Regions from separate parts of the Homo sapiens genome. Here all the other regions are linked to region 1. The links come from fine-mapping of genetic effects on gene expression. A gene starts in region 1. Each other region holds a variant in brackets. All regions are shown on one strand. Distances are between the middles of the regions.

Region 1 (2,841 bases):
GACGCATTTTCAAGGCAGTCTGGGCTTTAAAACCTCTGACTCATTACATCATCATCATCACCAATGCATCCTCTTAATAGTAATGATCCAAGGAAAAATCAGGCGCCTGGTAACTACGGAGCGTTGGTGAAGCATCTGCTTTCCTGAACTCTTCTTAAACCCTCACAGCAACCCTGAAGCTGGGACCTTTTCCCCATTGTTCAGAATCCACTGACCCGCCCAAGGTGAGGCAGTTACTAACTACCAAGTGAGGTAGGTCCACCGTGTCCCATACCCTCTACTTCCACCACCCCGACTCTTCCCACTTAAGAGATGAGATCAGATGCCTAAGAAGAGACAAAGAGGAAGAAACACCCCCAGGGCCACGCAGGGGGCACCTTTCCTGGCAGCCTGCACCCCTCCCCAGGGGGAGAGCACGGACCAGCCAGGGGGTCGCGGCCCGCGGCCCGCCTAGCTGTGTGCGCCTGGCTTCTTGCCTCGCCAAATCTCAAGTTTCCGCGTCCTCAGAAAGGGGGCAATCACCATGCCATCCTAATAGACTGTTGAGAGCGTTTAATAAAAGCAGTCAATCTATGAAAAGCACTGTGCAAACTGCGCGGTCAGTGTAAAGGCTCAATCCACATTCGCTTTCTCTCTCTCTCTTTTTTTTTTTTTAAACTCTCTGGGCTGGTAAAGTCTGAACTTTACGTGGGGATGATCTGAAAGCTAGAAAGGATCGAGAAAAATCCCAAAGCTCTAAGCCTGAGCTAGGGAGGGTCTCAGAGGGAGGTCTGACTGCAGACCGGGAGTCTTCTCCTCCCGTGCGCCGCTGCCCGGGACGAGAAACCCGTGGGGCATCCAGGACTAGGACACGAGGTCTCAGCCTGGGCAGGTGGACAAGCTGTGGGGTCCCACCCTCCGCAGGCGATGGCTTCCCAAAGTCTGTACAAACCGGTTTCGCCGGGCCGGCCATGCCCGCCCCTCTTCTCGGCGTGGGAAGCCCTTTCAAAAGTGGAGGGGAGCGAGTGTCGCGCCCTGCCAACCCCGACTGCGCCTGGGCCCTCCCCGCGCCGGGCTCCGGAGCCGCCCCTCCTGACTCTGCGACCACGGCCGGGGACCCTGCGCGCGCCCGGGAATGCAGAGTCTCCAGCGCCGCGCAGGGCTCGCCCCGACCTCGGCCGGCCCTGGGCAACCCGCTCCGCGGCCAGTCCCCACTCCAAGATGTGGCTCGGCTCCCACCTCCGCGGGGGGGAAATGTCGGGCGACCCCCACACTGACCTTCCTGCGCACCCAGCGCAAACTACGAACCCAGAGTTGGAGCTGCCCGCAGACCCCGCGCAGCCAGACCCCGCGCCTTTATCCCGCCCCGCCCCGCCCCGCCCGGCGCACCAATCCCCGGCCGAGGAGGGGCCGCGTGGCGCCGCGGGGGGCGGGCCGCGCACGCCCCCCGCAGGGAGGACTCAGGGACAGTCAGGGCCCCGGGAGAGTCCGCGCGCATCGCCCGGCTCCGCGGCGCCAGCCATGGCGTCCGTGCGTGGCCCCGCCAGGGATGGGGCGACGCGGTCAGAGCCGCACGCGACCGAAATCCGCACTCTGGAGCCGCAGAGCGCGCGGTCTTGCTGTTTAGCGGCTCCCTGGCAAGTGACGTGGGGAAGAAACGCAGGGCGCAGGAGAGACAGCTGGAAAGGTTTGCGGTGTAGCTGGCCCAGGATTGAGGGTCTGGAGGTCGGGTGTTGGAAGACCTTGAGCGAGGCACTTCTTGGCCTCCCCAGCTGGGAGGCATCGCTGAAAAATTAGGTGACCCCCAAGACGGTAGACCAGCAGAGTCAGCGTCACCTGGGCGCCGGTTGGAAATGCAGATTGGCAGGTCCCACCCCCAACCCCTCCCGACTTGCTGAGTCAGCATCTCTGGGGGTGGGGCTCGCGCGCCCCCAGCGGGACGCCGGTGCGCGCAGTAGCTTAAGAAGCTGGGTCCAAGGCGCTGGTTCTCAAACTCCGCTGCATATTGCAATCACCTGGGAGCTTTTTAACCTCCAAACGCCCAGGCTGCCCCCGGACCAAATGACAGAATCTCCGGGGCTGGGGGGGACGGGGATAGAGAAGCCCAGACCTAAGTATTTTTTTAAGCTCTTAAAGCGATTCCAGTGTGCTGTGAAGGTTGGACCCACGGTGTGGTCTCTGGACAAAGCAGCCCCCACTCCAGACCTACCGAACCAGGGAATCTGCATTTTAACAGGATCCCCAAGTGACTTGCAGGCGCCTTCGGTTTGGGAGAAACAACTCTAAGGTGTCTTCTGACATTAACAATCTGTGATTTTGTGAAATCTGTCTCGTTTTGTTTAGCGGGCTAGCCAGGCCCCGTTTTCTTCAGCTTCTCCCTTGACTTGATCCCTGAAGATGGCTCTGCCTCTGGCGCCCTTGAAATATGTCGACTAGGTCATGATCACCGTGCATTCTGCTCAGCGTAGTCTCCCCGCCTGAAGTGTTATTAATGCAGTCTAAAATGACTACGGTTCTGCGGTCTACCGAACTGCCCACGGAGGTAGGGGTTTCAGACTTTTGGCATCTCAAGAGACTTGAGATTACCGAGACCACGATACCCCCAGAGACGTGACGAGATGGGATCAAGGCCACGGGGGACCAGAATGCTGACCCAGGCAACCTGTCCCTGCCTCGCTGCCCTTTGTAATACTCCTTATCATATCATGAGGAGCTATTTTCCGTTCTCCACAAACTTGGTGGTGGATGGAAGAGGATATCAAGCTCACCTTGAGTGGGATTGAGGTAGGAGGCGGGGCTCAGACACCAGACCAGATTGAGGACAAACTAAAGCAAGGTCAGGGCCAAAGCAGCTTTCCAACA
Region 2 (2,500 bases), 42 kb before region 1:
GCAGGGAGCAGCTCCATCTCAGGGTTAGGGCATCGGGCATCTGACCAGCTTCTCTCAGCTCTGCAGCCTTCCCAGAAGTGCACACTCTGGACATGCGGTCCCCCTGGGAGGTGGAGTCAAGTCCCTGCTCCAGAAGTTTCCCTACCTGGGAGCAGCCTCCAGGCCCCTCTGCCTTTGCCCAGCCTCTGGCTTTCTGGGAAAAAATTTTGTTCATCACATTGCACGTTCCTCAGAGAAAAAGTATTGGCAGCCCTTTGCAAAAGTTTCTGTGTTGTTCTTCTTTTCAAATGTAAATTCTGTCCTTATGGGCCTGAGAAAGAGACGAAGCACCATAGATACTGGTCACTTCCAGGCCTTTTCCAACCAAGAGTCCTTCTCCTGAGGATGTGGAGGGGGCTCTTCTTTGAAGCTCCTTTTGGGGCACAGCTTCCCAGTTAAGCCTGTTGTCAGTGTCTCCACCTGTTTCACCGTGTGGCACACACAGCACATGACACTCTGCGTGCCACATGCCGCGATGCAGAAGGCCGCCGCCCCTGAGGCTGTGAGCGCACCTGGGGTCCCCTGGGGCCGAGGACCTCCGTACCTCACACACTCATTCCGTGTTCACAGCTCTGCAGTCGAGAAGTTCTGGATGGAGACTCTCACCCTCCCCTCCAGGACACTCACTGGCCACACATTCTGCCAGAAGGACAGAGGGCATTAGTAGAAGCCATCAGAATAGCCTGGTGAGACTGAGAAGGCAAGTGTCACTGAGGGGAGCCCAGCAACATTAGGGCTTTGAGGTGACCTGGAGATGGGGCTGAATTCTGAGCTGAGTCCTCGGAGCACAAGCCCGCCCTGTGTCTCCGAGAGGGTGCCCTACCTTCATCTCTCTCTCTCTCCATCCTCCTCCCACCCATCCCTGCTTCTCTCTCAGCCAGAATTGTTCATCACATTGACCCCTCCCTTGTTCCCCCACCTGAGCCCCAGGAGTATGTTCTCTGTGTGGGTACAGCCTGCTGTGAGCTGCAGCAGCACAGCAATGGGCAGAAGTTCCTGCCTCTGAGGCCCTGGCAGCCCGTACTTCAAAATCTGCCCCACTTGAACCAGTG[C/T]CTGTGAATGCCAGGGGGTGAACACTTGCTCGCTTGTTCTGCTCACAAGCAGTTTATGGGCAGGGTTGTCAGGCAAAGCAGCAGACCACTTGGGGTCCAGGGTCCTCTGCTTTCTGACCAGAGCTGAGGACCTGCTTGTCCCTGCTCCCTGGGATACTGCCGGTCGGGAGCTGAGTCACATCCATCGCACCTGCCCTCATCCAGTCTGAACAGGTGCCACCCAAGCTGACCTTTTCCAAGAATAATCAGCGTGGCCTCCCTCTCTCTCTTCTGAAACGGGTTTTACATAGAATGAGAAGCGGGGCCGTCTTTAGGTCTCTGAGTTTCCTGGGTGTGATTTTGCTGTCAATCACTTCCAGGATAACTTGCCCATCTGGCCTGATGGGCCTTCCAGAATGCATTCCACCACTTCTAGTCCTGCGGCTCACCTTTCTAGTCGTACCCACATACACAAGTGGCTTCTTTCTCCTGGTAGTGTGTGGCAGGAAACCTTGCAGCTCTCCCTAACGTGACATTTCCCTTTAAGCTCTGCTCACACAGGACTGAAGACCTCCGTGGTGTTGGCACCACATAGAATACCCGAACCTGCGATGCTCAGCTGGTCTCCATCTCTTACCCAGCAGTTCAGCCCACCCTGTCACAATCCAAGGATGTTTGCCAGACACAGGTCCAAAGCCCCCTCCGCAGGTGCTGAGTCTGCATTCTCGCCCATGCCTATGGTTCTAGAGGCACAGGGGCCCTGCAACGCTCCCTACCAGTGATGAATAAGAAATGTCTGGGGGACTAAGACATCAGACTGAAGAAGGGTGAGGAACATTGAGGAACGGTGGATGTTCGCTACAGATCTCAGGGAGCCTGAGGCAGGAGGGAGATTATGCCCTTGGATCCGCTGCCCTCAATAACCACTGCAGGGCCTTGAGAGGAGAGAAGATAAGGAGAACAAGCCAAAGGGGCCCGTCCCGGCGAAGGCTACACAACTGCCAGCCCGGTGATAACATGGCATTCGACCCCCTTCCTGAGAATGGCTGCCAGCTTCCCGGGCCCATGGCTGTGTTGACTCTGGAAAGAGGGAGGATGCTATCAGCTCACAAGGTCTGAGCCTCAAGACCCGAGCAGAGCGGCCGGCCGATAAGCTAAGTGGGGCCTGTAACTGCTCCAGCACAGGTGCACGACCCACCCTGTTTTCCTCTGGCACGAGCACTGCTGGCTTGTCAAAGACTGCCCTGCTCTCAGGCCTGCTGCCCTGGGCAGGTGGTGGGAGTGAGATGGCAAGCTTGTACCCTCACACTAGAGCTGTCGCCCTTTAGGTGGACATCCTTTAGCATCGTGGTTCTTTATCCTTTGGGGTGGAAGGGGACCCTTTGAGAATCTGATGAAAAGACAGCACCCTCTCCTCTAAAAAAAAAAAA
Region 3 (2,841 bases), 68 kb before region 1:
TCTGGTGGCGGGATTGCCCATTTGAGGCTGTGGTCATAAATGTGGGGTGTGTCCAGCAAGCCTGGTGGAGTGATTGATTTTTTCAGCAATATTTAGAAGTTCCAATACAGACAAAGACCAGGCAGACAGTGGGAGATAGGATTTGCCAAGCAGGTGACAGAGAACGGAAACAGCAAAAGTGAATGTTTTTTGCAAAGGAGCAATGTTAGTGTTAGACTGAGTCAGGAGGGAAGGACGACGAGAGGAAACGGGCCGGGAGAGCCAACGGAGCTGGAGGTAGGTGCATGGCCAGTGGTCTCCACGTGACCTGGGGGTTGCTAGGGTGAGTCCAGGAGAGATCAAGACTGAACAGGTGGAGACCAGAGTATGGGGAGAGGGGGAGCGACAGTTCAGATGTGGTGTGGCTTCTTCATTCAGAGACTCGGCCTGCTGCCACATTAGCTGCTGGTGCCCTGCTGAGCGTGGCCAGGTGCCCTGACCCATGGCTGGTGACGTCAAACTGTGGCTTCCTTGGCCTCCCAGAGATCTCGTCTCTCTTATGTTTGGAAAGGGTGTAAACTCCGTTTACACACACCCTTTTGACTTCTCAACAAGACCAGAAGCACTTCCCACTGGCTCCTTCTCCATGTCTAAGCCTGAAGTCTGTGGCCTAGACGACTTGGGGAAGGAGGCAGGCAGAAGAGGAGGAAGTTGGCAGTGACCAGAGCAGACAGGCCTGTGGTAACCAGACCCTATCTGATGGGAGCTGCTCAGCAGATTGAAGGTTTCAGACAGGGCTGTTTTTAAGTACCCCGTTCACAGGCTCAAAGCAAACAGCAAGGGAGACAGCTAGGCGGTCTCCAAAGGAAATTGATTAAGGAAGAGAAACCTCAGATGCGTTGGAACATTTATCATTTCTTTGAGGATACATGCTTGACGTGATGGATATTAATTACCCTGATTTGATCACTAGACACGGAATGCACAGAAACATCACTATATACCCCATAAATATGTACAATTATTATACATCAATTTTTTAAAAATTAAAAGGGAAAAAAGGTGTTTTAGCTAGGCATGGTGGCTCATGCCTGTAATCCCAGAACTTTGGGAGGCTGACATGGAAGGATTGCTTGAGCCCAGCAGTTCAAGACCAGCCTGGGTAACACAGAGAGACCTCATCTCTTTTTGTTTGTTTTTTTGAGACAGAGTCTGGCTCTGTTGCCCAGGCTGGAGTGCAGTGGTAGGATCTCAGCTCACTGCAACCTCTGCCTCATGGGTTCAAGCAATCCTCCTGCGTCAGCCTCCTGAGTAGCTGGGA[C/G]TACAGGTGTGCACTGCCACAGCTGGCTAATTTTTGTATTTTTGTAGGGATGGAGTTTCACCATGTTGGCCAGCTTGGTCTGAAACTCTTGACCTCAAGTGATCTGCCTGCCTCGGCCTCCCAAAGTGCTGGGATTACAGGAATGAGCCACCATGCCCCACCCTTGTCTATTTTTTATTTTTTAATCATAAAAAAATGAAGGTGTTTGCAGGCTGTAAGAATCCGTCATCCACCACTCGCTGCCAGGAACATTCCCGCCTGCAAGATGGTTACGAGGAAAGTGAGGCTTGGTGCAGCTTTGCAGGACAGTAGGGTATTTCCTGAGCCATTTGTTAAACAGAAAGCCCTGCACTGCTCATTCTCTTACTCCCTTCTCCATGCAAAGACTACTGAAGCTAAGGGGCATTTGCTAAAGAACAGCCAGAGTCCCAAGGGAAACCTGAGTTAGAGATGACAAGCCACACTCCTTGGCTCGCTCCCGGAGACTCACCCACCCAGGTGGTCCTGGCCTAGGCCTGGAGGGAGGGCTTTCAGGGAGCTCACCTCTGCTCCCCCACCCACTGCACTCTCGGCCTCATCTGGGAGGGGTACCTGGGCCTGGAGCAGGACAAATGCGTCTCCAACCTGTCGCCTCTGCACCAGTCTGGGTTTGGTCAATAAAGTGGAAGCCCCCTCAGTCTTCCATGAAGGAAAGGACCTGATTCAGGAACTAAGGGTTCACAGAACCCTTAGAAGGGCGGGGACAGGCAGTGTCCGGGAAGAGGCTGTGAGAAGAGGTGACTCACAGAGCTCATCCCCAAAGTCGCCCGGATTTCACCCAGCTCAGCAGGGGGCCTTTTTTGCACCGCTGTAGCTGGAACGGCTATGGAAAGCTGGTGATTCTCAAGAGGTCTGTCCACACCTCTGCCTGCTGCCACCACCGGGAATAAAGCTTCACTTGCTATTGTGCACTGAATTATGACCCCCAAAAATTCACATGTTGAAATCCTGATCTCCAGCATCTAAGAATGGGACTATGTAAGAGGTAACTAGAGTAAAATGAGGTCATATGGGTGGGTCATAATCCAATCTGACTGACGTCTGCATAAGAAGAGGAGATTAAGACACAGACACTCACAGAGGGACGGCCACATGGAGACACAGGGAGAAGACACCACCTACAAGCTGAGGAGAGAGGCCTGAGAAGGAACCAACCCTGCCAGTACTTTGATCTTGGACCTCCAGCCTCTAGGACTGTGAGAAAACAAATGTCTGTTATTTAAGCCACGCAGTCTATGGTATCTTGTTATGGCAGTCACACCCAACGGGGATATTTGTTTTTCCTCTTTGACCCCTCTTCCTCTCCTCTCTACCCCACCCCCAGCTTTTAAAGCCCCCACCTGGAAGTGACTCATATCATTTCTGCTCACATTTCCTTGGTCTAAACAAGTCAGATGGCCAAACCTGACATCCAAAGTGTGGAGAAGTACCAGCTTAGCCTGGGCCCCCAAGTAGAGGAGAACTGCACTATTTGCAGATGGGATCTTAGTGATTACCTCTCA

Direction of the effects. Positions count from the first base shown, and alleles are read on the strand shown. Sizes are in standard deviations (SD) of each study's normalised expression. Not every link is listed here.
For the expression in pancreas of the gene that starts at base 1,447 in region 1, allele C in region 2 goes with a lower level than allele T (large effect, 0.83 SD a copy in GTEx).

What was found.
Region 2: its variant is fine-mapped to the expression of TDH-AS1 in pancreas (GTEx, PIP above 0.99). The same link has a PIP of 0.9 or more in stomach.
Region 3: its variant is fine-mapped to the expression of TDH-AS1 in amygdala (GTEx, PIP 0.97).

Annotation. Positions count from the first base shown.
Region 1 is chr8:11,346,122-11,348,962 of GRCh38, reverse strand. TDH-AS1 (TDH antisense RNA 1) reads left to right here and starts at 1,447. Exons shown (of 2, transcript NR_147705.1): 1 at 1,447-1,666; 2 at 2,323-2,841. It also overlaps the pseudogene TDH. RefSeq lists a silencer at 1,300-1,579 and an enhancer at 1,134-1,757.
Region 2 is chr8:11,388,381-11,390,880 of GRCh38, reverse strand. The region is part of intron 2 of FAM167A-AS1 (FAM167A antisense RNA 1); the gene reads right to left. Among named protein-coding and RNA genes, the nearest start is that of FAM167A-AS1, 21 kb to the right of the region's middle. The variant C/T (reference allele first, on the strand shown) is at 1,092.
Region 3 is chr8:11,414,592-11,417,432 of GRCh38, reverse strand. All of the region lies in intron 3 of FAM167A-AS1 (FAM167A antisense RNA 1), which reads right to left. Among named protein-coding and RNA genes, the nearest start is that of FAM167A-AS1, 48 kb to the right of the region's middle. RefSeq lists enhancers at 1-441, 365-594, 442-943. The variant C/G (reference allele first, on the strand shown) is at 1,301.